Linked DNA regions of Homo sapiens. The protein of the gene in region 1 purifies or fractionates together with the protein of each later gene. This does not show direct contact. Each region holds a gene or a part of one and is shown on either strand. Other genes may lie near its edges.

Region 1 (6,414 bases):
GGTCCAGCAAGGATCAGATGCCCCCCTCTCCCCAAGACACTGACCGCTGGCATGGGAGCTCCCGGATGGTCTCCCCTCAAGGCTCACTGAGTCTCTCTCTCTTTTTTTCTTTGAGACACTGTCTCTCTATGTCCCCAGGCTGGAGTGCAATGGCGTGATCTCAGCTCACTGCAACCTCCACCTCCTGGGTTCAAGCAGTTCTCCTGCCTCAGCCTCCCAAGTAGCTGGGATTACAGGCGCTGCCACCATACCTGGCTGATTTTTGTATTTTTAGTAGAGACAAGGTTTCACCATGTTGGCCAGGCTGGTCTTGAACTCCTGACCTCATGACCCACCCGCCTCGGCCTCCCAAAGTGCTGGGATTACAGGCTTGAGCCACCGTGCCCAGCCAAATCTCTCTTTTTAAAGAATGGAGTATTCCTTTAGAAAAACAATCTAAATTGGGTGAATTTCGTAACTGTGGGTTTACAGGACCTCCGGGGGCTATGTGCACATTCTCAGAGGCACCCAGACTGAGAGACTCTCCAGGGCACACAGCCGGGTTTCTTCCACAAATAAGGGGGGAAAGAAAAAGTGGGAGGGGCACCCTATGGACTAAAGGTCCTTAGGAAACCTCTCAACCAAATGCTCATTCCCAGAGCAGGATTTGAACAATCCAACTGGAAAAAGAAAGGCAACAGATAAATGTGAGCACTGGAAGGAAATATCGGATATTAGGGATAATATTGTTTCAAGTGTGCTAATGGTATTACAATTGCTTTTTAAAAGGCTCTTATCTGTTAAAGGTAAATATTATAAAAGATATTTACAGATGAAATGATACATAAATCCAGCATTTGCTTTGAAATAACCCAGCAGATGAAACAAGAGTGTCCACAAGATGGTGACTGTTGGAGCTGGGTGACGGGTACAGTGGAAGGGAGTTACAGACCATTTGGTAGTCTACTTTTGTATCCATTTGAAAGTTTTTTGTTTTGTTTTATGGAGACAGGGTCTCAATCTGTCACCCAAGCTGGAGTGCAGTGCCACAATCATGGCTCACTGCAGCCTTGACCTCTCCAGCTCAAGTGATCCTCTTGCCTCAGTCTCCGAAGTAGCTGGGACCACAGGCACACACCACCACGCCTGGCTAATGTTTGTATTATTATCATTATTATTATTATTATTATTATTATTATTATTATTGTTATTGTTATTTGACACAGGTCTCACTACATTGCTCAGTTTAGTCTCAAACTCCTGAGTTCAAGCTATCTTCCCACCTCAGTCTCCCAAAGTGCTAGGATTACAAGCATGAGCCACCATGCTCGGCCCTGAAAGTTTTCATAATAAAAAGTTACCAAAAAATTCCACTCTTCGGTATATACCTGAGGGAAATGAAAACGCATGTCCACACAAAAATGTACACATGAATGTTCATAGCAGCACTATTCATGTCGGCCCAAAGATGGAACCAGCCCAAACATCCATGATGAATGATTGACAGATGGATGAACAAAATGTGGTCGCTACCCATCCCGTGGAATATTATCCAGCCATACAAAGGAGTGAAGCCCTGGCTACGACATGGAGGAGCCCTGAAACATGCAAAGTGAAAAAAGGCAGTCAGAAAAAGCCACATACTGTCTGATTCCATTTATATGAAATGTCCAGAATAAGAAGTCCATAGATGCAGAAAGCAGATTGGTGGTTGCCAGGGCTGGGGAGTGGGGGTGGAGAGTGACTGCTAATGGGTACTGGTTTTCTTGAAGTGATGAAAATATTCTAAAATTGATTATAGAGATGGATACACAACTCTGAGTATACCAAAAGCCATTGTACACTTTAAAGGGTGAATTGTATTGTATGGGAATTATTTCTCAATAAGGTGTTATAAAATAGTTGCAAATGAAGTGGGATCAAGGGTGGGGGAAGCATGAGAAGTTGTCAGTCACCATGAAATGCATAAAAGGGATTTAAATATGAAACCGGATTTAAATGTGGTGAATGGAAATGTTGATTTCTGATCAATCTGCAGAATTTAAAGACTTAAATTCTGGGCAATATCGTGAGACCTCGACTCTACGAAAATCTTTAAAAATGAGCAGAGTGTGGTGGTGTGTGCCTATAGGCCTAGCTACTTGGGAGGCTGAGGTGGGAAGATTGCTTGAGCCTGGGAAGTGGAGACTGCAGTGAGCTGAGATCACACCACTGCACTCCAGCCTGGGTGACAAAGCAAGACCCTGTCTCAAAAAAAAAAAAAAAATTGGCTATATTAAAATTTTTTTTCAATAGAAAAAAAAAACCATGAAACTCTAGATCTAGAGCAAAATTATAAAGAGACCTAATCACTTCGACCCCTGTTGGGTCCTGGCCATGACGAGCCCAGTGTGGGAATATTCATTTGGGGGCCAAAGGCGTTGAGCTGGTGTAGTCCTGGGTCACTCCCGGGTTCTCGGGAGTTTCATTCTTCCCTCTAGGCCTCAGTCTTCCCATCCGTACAGTGGGGACGGGGGCCTCTAAGGAGGTCTGAGCCCTCCCAGCTGCAGTGCTACAGGGCTTCCCAAGGGTCTTCGCTTGGCCTGACTTCACGAGCAGCTCCAACCCCTCCTCTGCTTCCCCCAGACCATGTCTGTCCCAGAGAGCCACCCCCAGGAGTCCTCCCTCAGGTCTGTTCCCTCTCATCCCAGCCCCTCATTCGGCAGCTATTCCATGCCTGCTGTATACCAGGATGTCCAGAACAGAGCTCAGCCCCCCAAATCTGCCCCTCCTCTCTCTTCCAGGAATGCCCCATGCCCCCACTGCCCATACCTACCCAACATCCAAGCAAGAACTGGGGGCATTCTGGGCCCTTTCCTCCTCACCACACCCACTCGAGGCCTCCCCATAGGCTTTTCTCTCCATATTCTGGCCTCTCCTCTCCAACTCCCCAGCCCCAGCCTCCTCCCCACTGCCTCTTCCCCACCGCATGCATTCTCCTCGCTGTATCTCACACCCCTCACCTCCCTGCTTGAAACCGTCCATGGCTCCCTGTTCAAGATAAAAGTTGACCTAACTGAAGACCGCCTTGGAGGCCCTCCCACTGCTCCCCTAGCACTGCCCCAGCACTTCCCTCCTTCCCAGAAGGAAGATGCAGCTTCCGAGACAAGCTGCTGGTGCGCTGGCCTCTGGGCCTTAGCCCATGCCGTTTCCTCTGCCTGGGCTGCCTCTCTCCTCCCGGTCATGCAGGCTGCTCTCACTCATCCTTCAAGGCTCAAAATGCACCTTGGTTTGGACACCTCTGACTTCCCAGTTAACTCTGCCCTTTTACTTCTCGGCACCTGGACCCCCTCCCTATCTCCCTAGGTGTCTTGGCAAATAGAACACTTCCCCCGGCTGAGGCACACCCATCCTTCAGGGTCACCTCTTCTAGGAAGCTTTCCCTGACCTCCCAGAGTGGGTTAGAGGACTCCTCTGGGCTCCTCCAGCTCTGGATTACCGCCACTGAAGCACACATCACATTAGCAAACAGCAACAAGCCATGGGCCAGGCTTCCCCATCAGACCGGGAGGTCCTCGAGGGAGTGAACTGGGCCTGGTTTGCCTCGGTGCACCCTCATGTCCAGATAAACCCTGAGGTGTTTTTTGGTTGAAAATCGGAATGCCTAGCCCTGCATAAAATGCTCCTGCCCCAGTCCCTCCAACTAGCTGCCCACAGCTGCAGCCTGGCTACGGGCTACGGTCCCAGCAGGAAACGGGCTCCAGCTGGAAGGCCCTGTGGCTCTTCCCTGAGCGAGGCCGGCCCCAGCCCCCAGGCCCTACCTGGCCTTGCTACCTGTAGATCAGCTCTTCAGCCAAAAGGCAGTTGAGCTCAGCAGCTTGGTGCTGGGTGGGTGCTGGGTGAGTGCTGGGTGAGTGCTGGGTGGGTGCTGGGTAGGTGCTGGGGCCAGGCTGGGAAAGAACGAGAAGCAGGGGTGGAGCATCAAAGGCAACCCAGGGAGTGGGCTCGCAGGGATGAGGGAGGAGCTGCCTCCTCTTGCTCACCTGGCTTTTCAGATTCAGGAGACCTGGATGATCCTGCTGTGGAAGTCGAGGAGGGTGAGATGTCGCTGGTGACGCTCCCAGGAGCCATGAGACCGACAGGTGCAGCCAGCAGACCCCTCACCCGGGTGTGAGGCTGCTGGGCCTGCCCACTAGGCTTATATACCAGCAGCCCACCCCCACCACTCCAATCAGCCCTGATTGGGCTGGGAGTGCTCCAAGCTGCTGACTGGGGCTGGAGGTGTGGAATGGGGCACAGCATCCTGCCTTCTGTAGGGAGCCCCAGCTGGACTACCCACTCCTGTGTAAGCTTGGGGGTGTCGCTTGACTTCTCTGGGTCTCAGTCCCCATGGTGCAATGTTGGGAGCTGAGATGCTTGATCTCGCCTGTGCCCTCTGCCCACCAGGGGCTGGAGATGCTGATGAGGAATTGGGGTCACCTGTGTTGTCAGGGAGGCCGCTGAGGCGGCCCTCTAATCCTACCAGGTGGGCAATGGGCTGCCCCACGCCACTGCTGGCCTCAATTTCTCAAAAAGTAGCAGTTGGAGGCAGCCCAACTGCTACTTTTGCCCAGAGCACATGCCCCTCAATCAGAGTAGCCCCTTCTGAGGCCAGCCAGGCTCTCTGGGCCTATGCCCTCCTTTGGTTTTGTTTTTAAAGAAATAAATCAATAACGGAGGATGCTTCACAAAAGTCTTCATAGATAAGGACAACATCCACTGGGACAATGGACAAAGAATATAAACAGGCAATTCACCAGCCTAAAGGGTGAGGAACAGAAACAGGAAAATGGACACTCAACTTCCTTGGCATTTGAGAAAATTCAAATTGAAACAATGGTGAAATACTACTTTTTCCCATCAAATTGACAGACAAAAAAAAAAAACTTTCCAAGCAAACACCCAAGGCCTGGCTAAATCACACCCTTTCTGCAGAATATTCTGCAGCCATCTAAAATGACAAGGTGGGCTGGTGCGGTGGCTCAGGCCTGTAATCCTAGCACTTTGGGAGGCTGAGGTGGGCGGATCACCTGAGGTCAGGAGTTTGAGACCAGCCTGGCCAACATGGTAAAACTTCATCTCTACTAAAAATACAAAATTAGCTGGGCGTGGTGGTGTGCACCTGTAGTCCCAGCTACTTGGGAGGCTGAGGCAGGAGAATCACTTGAACCTGGGAGCTGGAGACTGCAGTGAACCAGGATCGAGCCATTGCACTCCAGCCTGGGCAACAAGAGCGAAACTGTGTCTCAAAAATAAGTAAATAAAAATAAAATAAAATAATATAATATAATATAAAATGACAAGATGGATTAAAACAAGGATGAGAGGCCAGGCATGGTGGCTCATACCTGTAATCCCAGAACTTCGGGAGGCTGAGGCAGGAGGATCGCTTGAGCCCAGGAGTTCAAGACCAGCCTAGGCAAAAAAGTGAAATCCTGTCTCTACCAAAAAATACAAAAATTAGCTGGGCATGGTGGTGTGCACCTGTAGTCCCAGCTACCTGGGAGGCCGAGGCAGGAGGATTGCTTGAGCCTGGGAGGTCAAGGCTGCAGGGAGCTGTGATCACACCCCTGCACTCCAGCCTGGGCTACAGAGTAAGACCCTGCCCCCCCCAAAAAAAAGGGGGAGGGAAAGAAAAGAAAACAAACAAGAATGAGGCTGTATTTCACACTCAGCAAAATGACAAAGATGTAAGTGTCTATCAATAGTGAGTGACTAGGATTCAAGGAAAGTATAGCTGCTGGGGGGTGGGGAGTGAGCTGGTAGCCGCCTTAGAAAGCAATTCAGCGATGTTTCATACAACTAAGGAGGGACTCACTCCACAACCCACCTATTCCACTCTAGGCGTAGATCTGAGACAAACATATACACTTACGTGCAAAGATGTTTATTTCAATCTTAGCAGAAATTCAAAACAACATAAATGCCCATCAGGTGGAGAGTGAACAAGTAAACTGTGGCCTATTCGCACAGTGGAGTAGTATGCAGTAGTGAAAAGGAGTGAACCAGAATGTATCGGAGAGTACACCCCAACTACTGAGAAGACAAAACTTGCGTGTGTGTGTGTGTGTGTGTGTGTGTGTGTGAAGGCACAATAGTTCTTTTTAATTTTTAAAAAATTTTTTTGTTTTTTTATCTTACCAGTCACAAGCAGTAGAAAAAAGTTCTGAATGGATTCATACCAAGGTAATAGTAGAAGTGGTTACCTCTGAGGAAGGGATGGGTTTTAAACAGCATACATTCTTCTCTAGGTAGTCTCTTTATTGTGGAATTTTCCCAGAGGGCTCTCCATCACCAGAGATCTGGACTCGGGGAGGCTGTGGTCATCAAAGTGTTCTAAAGTGAAGTCAGATTTCACTCCCCCGCTTAGCATCCTGCATGGCTCCCCACTGCCCGTGGGTGAAAGTTCATGCTCTT
Region 2 (3,500 bases), on another chromosome or scaffold:
GTTTCCCCTCCTCTTCTGTTTTTGTTTTTCATTGCGGTAGCTAAACAGCCTTCATTTGCCATGAATAAGCAACCTAACTTTAAAAGCCTTTATCCACTTGTTCGATTTAACAGAGTTTCTTTATCTCCTTTCACATACATCTCAGCAGGGAAATTCTAATAGAAGTGTTCTTCATTCATGCCGGTGCTACATTTAAATGCAGCTGCAAGTTAACTGCCTCTACTCAGTGACCTCAGCAAGTGATGTCCCTAGTAATAGTGGCCCAAGAAATACTGGCCATAATGAATGAAGATAACACCTTTAAATATTTTTTAAGTCCTTGGGCTTGGTCAGTTAATACAAATGAGTTGTTCAGTAATGCTAGTCACAAAAGAGAATTGATTCTGTGTTCTAAATGTAAATCTCTGTGTGCTTTAATGACACAATTTCAGAACTAGCTCCACATTTTCCATGAAGTACGCTGGGAAAAATAGTAGTTAAGTATGTATTCTTCACCATTGAAATTCTAGGCATACTTTATTTTAAGAATGTAGATATCAATTCATTTTTTTGTTGTTGTTTATAATTTTATAGGACATTGTGCTCACTTTGGCAGCACATATACTATAATTTTATAGGAAATTATCAGTTCCTTGCTTAGCATAGTAAATGGCAAATATGGAAGAAAGGTCCTGTGGTACTTTGTTTTGAGAATGCAGATATTGATTCTTTTTTTTTGTTTATAATTTTATAGGAAATTATCAGTTCATTGCCTAGCATAGTAAATGACAAATATGGAAGGAAGGTCCTATTGTACTTACTAAGCCCCAGAGATCCTGCACATACAGTACGAGAAATCATTGAAGTTCTGCAAAAAGGAGATGGAAATGCACACAGGTAAAACCAAGTAGAATGGCTTGACTTCTTTATTCCTCTGTTAATGTTGAGTAGTGCATTCTTCCAGAAGTCCACTTACCCATCCATACCCTCTCTAAAACTGCTGAAAAGGTGAATTCCATTTTCAAGCCTATATTTTTGACAGATTCTAAAGTTTTTATCTTGACAAGGAAATAAAAGTGTCGTGCCAAAAGAACACCTGAGCACCTGGCACATAGTAGGCATTCAAGTGCGTGGTTTGGCTTTTATTTTGCTTTATTTTCAAAGCTACCGATACCACATATTTGAGTACCCTAGAGTATGGTGTCCATACAGCAGTGTAAATGTGTTGTTTTCTGGGTATGTTATTTGGTTTTTGGATTTTTTTTTTTTTTTTTTTGGTATTACACAAGTCAGACTCCCTTTATTGAGCCCTTGTTCTGTGCCAGGCACTATTCAGATCGTGGGACACAAACATTTTTAAAAACAGAACACATACTCGTATCACTTATTGTCTACATGCTTAACAGAAAGATAGACAATAATAATAGAGTGCGATACAGTCTGTGATAAGCTCTTAGAGGTTTTTGTGATAATATCACCACATTTCCTTTGCGATTTATCTTACCTTAATACCCCGTTCAACATACTCAACAGTAAGAAAGATACAGAGGTCCGCAGACGGGAGCTCCTAGAATCCATTTCTCCAGCTTTGTTAAGCTACCTGCAAGAACACGCCCAAGAAGTGGTGCTAGATAAGTCTGCGTGTGTGTTGGTGTCTGACATTCTGGGATCTGCCACTGGAGACGTTCAGCCTACCATGAATGCCATCGCCAGCTTGGCAGCAACAGGACTGCATCCTGGTGGCAAGGACGGAGAGGTAATGTGCCATTAAAGCACAGGCAGGAAAGCTGCAAAGGCCACAAAAACTTCGTTTTTGGACGATGTGGGGTGTCAGTAAGAAAGCTGGGGAGGGAGATACCTGTTGAATAAACAACCAAGAACCTCTCACAGCAGCAATTACATTCATCTTTAATTTTCTCTAACCATCTGGGTCAAAGCCTGGTACTTGGGAATGTTTTACAGATGTGAATTTGCTTATGAATGAAATCATTGCCAAGTATTGAGTGCCCAAGGTGCTTCTGACACCTGCGATTGGGGAAGAGAAGTGGGCCATGGATCTTAGAGAAGCCCTGGCTCCTGACCATATTAACAAATGGGAAAGATGAATGTACCTTGAAAGTTTCTCTATAAGGAGACTGAGCCGGTTGCCTCCCATACTTGCTAAGGAGTAGCCCAAATAACTGGGAACGCTTGGTATTGCTCTTGAAGAGGAGTAAGGTTGAGCTGAAAAGATGCTTTCTTGATTCGCTCATCAGATAATCCCCTTCGGTGGTCATGTGTACTTAAACAGCATGCAGCATTGGGTTTTGATGTTTGTGCTATAGTGTTCTGTCCTGTAGGTTTATTTGTGTCTGAGAATGACATATTTCAATCCAAGACGTGATTAGCATTAAGATGAGCCTTGTGCTGCTACTGTTCAGAGCAGATTAAATGAAGCGGAGACTGAAGCGCTGTGCCGTGGCTGTGTTATCTGGCATAACTGTCTTTCAGTCTGGGGATCAGAATAGATCTGTGGTCCCCCCAAGTATGATGGTTGTCCTAGATAAAGACCTCTTAAGCCTGTGGAACTTTAAAAGTGGCTGAGTCCTTATCTGTATGTGGTGGCATAAATAGTATGTATTCATTCAAATGTATTTGTATGAATGAAAACAACTTTTAAAATTAACTGTTCTTGACCCTTCATAGCTTCACATTGCAGAACATCCTGCAGGACATCTAGTTCTGAAGTGGTTAATAGAGCAAGATAAAAAGATGAAAGAAAATGGGAGAGAAGGTAGGCTATGAAATTTGACCTTTTCTTGTATCTCATGTGGAATTCCAGTAATTCCTGGCATCCCTGAACTTTATACCAGCCATTTAAGCTCAAATGAAGTTTGCCAAGTGTCTAGAAATGGTGTCTGTGAATAAGAAATGATTCAGTGGTTGCTGGTAATGCTTTTTCCCCTAGAAATATTTGTGCCTGAGAACTCTTTTAATTTTCTTTTTTCCAAACCCCCCCCGCCAGCCCCCCCCACCGCCCCCTCACTCTCTCTGTTTTCCTTCCTGTGCTGCTGCAGGCTTCTAACCTGGCTTGGTCAATGCCTTAAAATGCCATTCTAATGAGGATGGTGAGAGGGGGTAGGGGGCCCCAATTGTTGAGTATCATTACCTCAGTAGAAAGGCATGACATTTATCTCTATGTTTGAAGAAAGAATAAGCAGAAGAAGATTATCCTCGTAAGAGAGTTTTGGACTAGTGCCTGTTTATTTGGCATTGAAATACATGTGACCAAAGAGTAAGCCAGTCTTTGGCGCTTTCTGGTTTTTTGTAAGCCTTACAGCTGCTCTGTAGAAACTCAGCTCTCTAGAGAAGGACAGCATTAGCATTTGCATGCCATTCCCCTCTCAGTCCTATCTCCAACCAGACCTTCACTTACAAAATCCAAATTCCATCTGGTATTTAAACCACTGGAGAGATTTTTTTCCCCTACTGAGTTAAAACAGTTTGGGCTTTTCATTACAATGTCTGGAAAAAAGTGACAG
Region 3 (3,500 bases), on another chromosome or scaffold:
AGCTGCCAAGAGTGTAGCACAAATAATTACCCTACCTCAAATAACAGTAGTTCCCCATTTAGAAATAATGAATAGAGGATGTAGGTCTGTACAGATAAAGTTTACATGCTTCTCACTATACCACGTTTACTAAAATGCCTACCATGTGCCAGACACTATGCTTTATAAACATAATACATTTAATGTGATCTTTGTGGGAACTCTAAAGATAGGTATTATTTCCCACATTTAAAAAACGAGGAAATTGAGTGGCTAAGAAACGTGACTAAAATCACAAAACTAGAAAATAATGGAATCTGTATTTGATATCACAGCTGCCCTGACTCAAAGCCACTACTAGGTTTCTACAGTTTAGACAGCTGATGAAATTCTATTTTAGAATAAGTCAAAAAAGTATATCCCTTTAACTTTCACCATTCAGCACTACTCTTCCACACAGTAGCCCCTCCAATGGTCTTTAGAAAGACGCCATGTTCCTAGAATCTACTTTCCCACAGGCTAAATCCTGTTTTTTCAACTTTCCCCCCATGTGTCACCATTAGGAGTTGTGATTTTTATTCCTGAACCCATGCTAAGTCTCTAGGATAATCACCATTTTTTTTTTTTTGACAGAGTCTTGCCCTGTCACCCAGGCTGGAGTGCAGTGGCACCATCTCTGCTCATGGCAACCTTTGCCTCCCGGGTTCAAGTAATTCTAGTGCATCAGCCTCCCAAGTAGGTGGGATTACAGGCATGCACCAACACGCCCAACTAATTTTTGTATTTTTAGTAGAGATGGGATTTTGCTGTGTTGGCTAGGCTGGTCTCAAACTCCTGACCTCAAGCAATCTGCTGGCCTAGGCCTCCCAAAGTGCTGGGACTACAGGTGTGAGCCACCGCATCCGGCCAGAAAATGTAAACTTTTTAAAGGCAATAGATGGTATAAGTGAAATTTGTGTGACTATATAAAACACCCTGGATAAAACAGGGATAGAACATTTATTGAATTGATGAATGCCTGCTTCTTAGCAGAGTTACTAGTGGCCTCAAAGTGATGACAGTTGTTTTTTAACTGCCAAAAATAAAAAGAGGAAAACAGACCTTGCCACTTTGTGGAGGCAGTTTAAAAAAAGAAAAAGAGGCAGCAACTACCTTAAAAATAATTTTTTTCTGGAGTAGTTAAGTATTCAAGAGATTTTAGATATTTTGGTACATTAATCCAGTTAAGCCAAATTATAATATGGCCAACAAAACACATTACAAAGCTTGTTATAGTAGTTTCTGGAAAGCTACTAGTACAAGTGGATAAAGTAAGTTATATTGATAACAATTAAAGTCATAAAAGTTAGATTTTTTAAAAACAGCCTTTTAAACCACTAATAGAGTGTTCACTGATATTAGAAATAAAATGTTATTCTGGCAGCACAGAAAGTCTTGTCCCTATTTTGTAAATTCTTTATAATTTTATTTTAATGAAATTAAAAATCATAAAGATGACTCATTCAATTGGTCATCTTTAAGGTTACTGAACTCATAGCCATCATTCAATAAATAAATAAATAAAACAGCAACAATAATAACAAACCTAGATATCCTTTATCAAATCTCTTATCTCAACAGGAAGAAATACCTTGGGTTCAGGTGACACATTCATCTCAGGTCTGAGACTCACAGAAAAAGTTTTAGACTGGAACACACACATAACATGGGCCCAAGTCTCTACCTCAAAAACTTAATCCTGTGATACCACCTCTGGCAATGTAAAATCTAGCCACAACAAACCATATGCAGATCCCCAACTAGGTCAGCCCTTTCCTTCCTCTCTTTCCAAATGGTAGTCCCTCTGCACTGAGCGCTTTTCTCTGCCTTATTCCCCTCCTTCACCCTCATCCATCTAGATCCAGCTTCAGCATCTCTTTCTATGGGAAGTCTTTCCTCCCAGGGCAGACTTTGTACCAGTCACAGGGTCCCCACTATATCCTGCATTTCTCTATTTAATTGTACCATCCACACTATATTTTGTCAGTTTACATATCCATTTACTCCACCTATGAATTTCCTGGTTGTCTCTTGTTTTAGCTCTGCATCTTTTACTAAGAGTTACAACAATCTCTTGGCTGTAGCATGTGCCTGATAAATGTTTGGTGAATACAAAGGAAAAATCAGTTTATAGACTCTTGGAAAGAGATACAATTTTCTGATAAAAAAATTATTTTCTGAAAGTTATAGGCAATATTTCCTTATTCTTTTAAATATATTTTTAAGGGGGGTGAGGGAGAGGACAGGAAAACCTCCTTAAAAAAAAAAAGGATACTTGGGGTTTTACGATCTTCATTAATAACAATCAGGTCTGTGAAATCTCTTGCGATGCACTGTGGAATAATTTTTTTCAGAGCCAGTCCTCTTCTGTAATAAACATGTGAGTTTGGTATAACTGTGGAGAGCTGTTCACAGAGTCGTACTGTTCTCTGCAAAACAAAATAACAAAAATTTTGAATAGTTTTCAAAAAAGAATAAAAATCTTATGTGGTACATATTCATAAGGAAAGAAATAATAATTATTATGATTAATAGAAAGCAACATTGAGGAAAGCATGAAACTCGAACAGTGTGTCCTCTTTTATCAAAGGCTGATCATCCTAAAGCAGTGGTTCTCAATTAGGGGCGATTCTGCTCCATCAGAGGACACATTTGGCAATGTCTGGAGACATTTTTGATGGTTATGACTGATGGTAGTGGTAGTGGTGTGTGGTTGCTACTGGCACCTAAAGCATAGAGGCCAGGGAAGCTGCTAAACATCCTGTAATGAACAGGATAGCTCACCATAACAAAGAATTCTCCAGCTAAAATGTTAACAATGTTGAGGTTGAGAAATCCTATCTTGAAGAATCATGTTTAGTAAACCTACATCATATTACCAGAGCTACGTTTTATTTACTTAGTCACAGGCATTCTTTAAGGCAATTAACTAATGGTTTAACTCTTCTGAACAGAGTACTTTAAATAGAAGTAATAAGAAAATTAAGAATTCAAGAACTAAATTAATCAATGTGTTTACCCCATGAGGTCTATCTGATGTTGTGATGAGAATCTTGGGAGAAGTCTGTTTGTTGAAGTAAGAAGCAAATTCATCTGTAGCTTCATCATAAGCGACCTGAGAACAGAGAAGAGGAATAATTTTACATCAAAGAAATACTCTACTGGGCCAGAATTCTAAAAGTAGCATCAGCAGGACTGTTGGACACTGAGTATCTAGCTGATAGGGGCTTTAAAGACAGACTAGGAAGGACTGACATTAATGGACACGTGAAGAGAATGGATGAGTGGATTTCTCCTGTGTAAAATACAAGTACAAAACTGAATAAAATTGTCAGAAATCACTTCAGGGCAGAAACTGAGATGTGTTTACTCTTGAACTACTTTCATTTCCCTCATCAACTTGGTTAGTAAAAACAATAACCACAAAAAAAACAAAACAAACAAACAAAAAAAGAACCAAAAAAAACTAATGAAATTACGAG
Region 4 (2,244 bases), on another chromosome or scaffold:
TTCCCTAAAGTTCTCCTCCCTTCACCCCAGGGGGAAAAGAAAAAAATCAAAATAACCCACTGGGCTTCGTTAAAAAAAAAAAAAAAGTCCTTTACTGAGATTTGGTTGGTTCGTTGCTTCTCTAGAGTGCAAGGGGCTGTCTGCACATCAGCACGGACTTCATCTCTCAGCAAGGGGTCTCTGCCCTTCAGTGCGTGAGAATGAGGCCCGTCAACTGCTAAGGCTGTGGCAAACATGAGGATGTTTTGGTTTCCAAAAAAACATTCTACAAGCCCACTCGGGGGAAACGCTTTTAGGCTGCAACATTCTATTAAATGTCCAAATTCTGTGTGACTCTAAATATGGGAACCAGGCTTATGATATAGAGACATGAGTAAGTTTGGGAAATTTTAAAAAGAGGCATGATTAAACATACACAAAAATTAGAATATGTACAGTGGAATTAGGCTAAAGCTTTGCCTAATTGGTGCCTGAAATGTATAATCTGTCAAGAGCCATAATAGAAGAGAAAGAGATTTATTTTAAGGTTATTTAAATTTAAACAATATTAACCTTAAATCTGCTAAATCCATGTTTCTTTATTAACTGGGGTAATATAGTGATTCTACTTAGAAACAGACCCACATAGCATCTATGGCAAGAAACCCTCACCATAAGAGTTAGCAGATTAAGTGTGTAAGTTTTGATCTTGGAATTATCGTCACTCACACGTTGCATGATTCTAGCACTTCTCTTTCCCCCCAGGGATGCCGAACTCTGCCAATTCGCCCTTTAGTGGAATGAGTACTGGGGGAGAAAAAGTAAGGTTTCTCTTTGATCATCCCCAATCACTGGCATTAATCCTGTTTTTCACACAGCTGGGTTTTGTCTATAAAGTTTGATCCCTCCTTTTCTCATCCAAATCATGTGAACCATTACACATCGAAATAAAAGAAAGGTGGCAGACTTGCCCAACGCCAGGCTGACATGTGCTGCAGGGTTGTTGTTTTTTAATTATTATTGTTAGAAACGTCACCCACAGTCCCTGTTAATTTGTATGTGACAGCCAACTCTGAGAAGGTCCTATTTTTCCACCTGCAGAGGATCCAGTCTCACTAGGCTCCTCCTTGCCCTCACACTGGAGTCTCCGCCAGTGTGGGTGCCCACTGACATTCACCTGTGTCTAGAACGGAGGCAAGGATGCTGACCCCCCGTGGTCCCTGCAGGAAGGCCCACCTTGCCAACTCTCACCACCCTCTCGTGGCCACTCAGACCTTCCAAGGATCTGGGGGGATCTACTGAAGTGGTGCCTCAACACTGGTCCTGGGGAGACCACAGAGGGCGGCACAGTCACTGCAGAGGAGAAGGAAACTGAGAAGGCAAGACACAGTGGAGAGGACAGGAGCGGTGCCCACAGGTGTGGAGGCCTCCAACCCTTTCTCTTCTGGACCCCTCTGCAAGTGCCCAAATCTTACATTTATTGGGAAATCAATATGCTCCAGGGGGCCTCTTTCAAACCTCCCAGAAAACACAATGCAGGGGCAGGGCGGGGTGGGTCGGGGGCGGGGGGCGGGCAGCTGTGGCCTGGGTCACAATACAAAGACCCCCAGACCTTTCTTGAAGACAAGACAGGATTCGATAGGGAAAAAAAGCTTGGGATACTGGTGCCTTTTGACTTCAAAGGCAAATAATAAAAAGCCAACAGTAAATCAATTAGCCCTGAGAGAGTGAGTTTTCAGTGGACATGAAAGAGGGAGCAATGCATGTAAATGCAACCTCGTGTTTCCAGAAGAAAATAAGAGGGACCACGAGCCTGAGAACACATTCGTATTTTTTGACCCAGACCAAAAACTTTTGGTCCTTTTTAACGGTACATTCCTACATTAAGAAAATAATTAGTGATAAATATATTCTCTTTTTGTACAAATTCAATTCCAGTTTTTAACACCCTAATTCACAAAATTCATGCCAATGTATGCGCTGATAGGCTGAAGCCAAGCTGTGAAACTTCAGAACACAGTTAAGGGCAGCAATCAAGCCCGTTCCAGGCTGACGCGCAGGGCGTTCTTACATCACATCCCGGGGTGCCAGCTCAACCCCGGCACGTCAGCACCTGGGTGAAGGGAGTGCCGGGCACTGATGGGATCAATACAAGACACAGACCCCTTCCGTCGGGAGCTGGCTAGTCTCTACAGTGCCCCACACCACTGATTTCTATCAGGCTCCAGGGCCTCCCATGGAGGAGAAGGGCTGTGGCCCCTCTGA

Evidence for each region. Proteins that work in one complex are often made in the same cells at the same time.
Region 2: the proteins of H1-8 (region 1) and PUM3 purify together in Homo sapiens (affinity purification with mass spectrometry; one large-scale study listed by BioGRID and IntAct). This does not show direct contact.
Region 3: the proteins of H1-8 (region 1) and RPF1 purify together in Homo sapiens (affinity purification with mass spectrometry; one large-scale study listed by BioGRID and IntAct). This does not show direct contact.
Region 4: the proteins of H1-8 (region 1) and DDX31 purify together in Homo sapiens (affinity purification with mass spectrometry; one large-scale study listed by BioGRID and IntAct). This does not show direct contact.

Annotation. Positions count from the first base shown.
Region 1 is NC_000003.12:129,540,894-129,547,307, reverse strand, and holds the start of H1-8 (histone H1.8), read right to left. Parts: upstream 4,134-6,414; 5' UTR 4,090-4,133; coding exon 4,002-4,089; intron 1-4,001. UniProt on the Homo sapiens protein: May play a key role in the control of gene expression during oogenesis and early embryogenesis, presumably through the perturbation of chromatin structure. Essential for meiotic maturation of germinal vesicle-stage oocytes.
Region 2 is NC_000009.12:2,809,596-2,813,095, reverse strand, and holds part of PUM3 (pumilio homolog 3), read left to right. Parts: intron 1-733; coding exon 734-876; intron 877-1,512; coding exon 1,513-1,735; intron 1,736-2,664; coding exon 2,665-2,752; intron 2,753-3,500. UniProt on the Homo sapiens protein: Inhibits the poly(ADP-ribosyl)ation activity of PARP1 and the degradation of PARP1 by CASP3 following genotoxic stress. Binds to double-stranded RNA or DNA without sequence specificity. Involved in development of the eye and of primordial germ cells.
Region 3 is NC_000001.11:84,489,266-84,492,765, reverse strand, and holds part of RPF1 (ribosome production factor 1), read right to left. Parts: intron 3,134-3,500; coding exon 3,038-3,133; intron 2,448-3,037; coding exon 2,294-2,447; intron 1-2,293.
Region 4 is NC_000009.12:132,592,497-132,594,740, forward strand, and holds the end of DDX31 (ATP-dependent DNA helicase DDX31), read right to left. Parts: 3' UTR 501-2,244; downstream 1-500. UniProt on the Homo sapiens protein: May have DNA helicase activity and RNA helicase activity. Probably have ssDNA and RNA dependent ATPase activity. Plays a role in ribosome biogenesis and TP53/p53 regulation through its interaction with NPM1.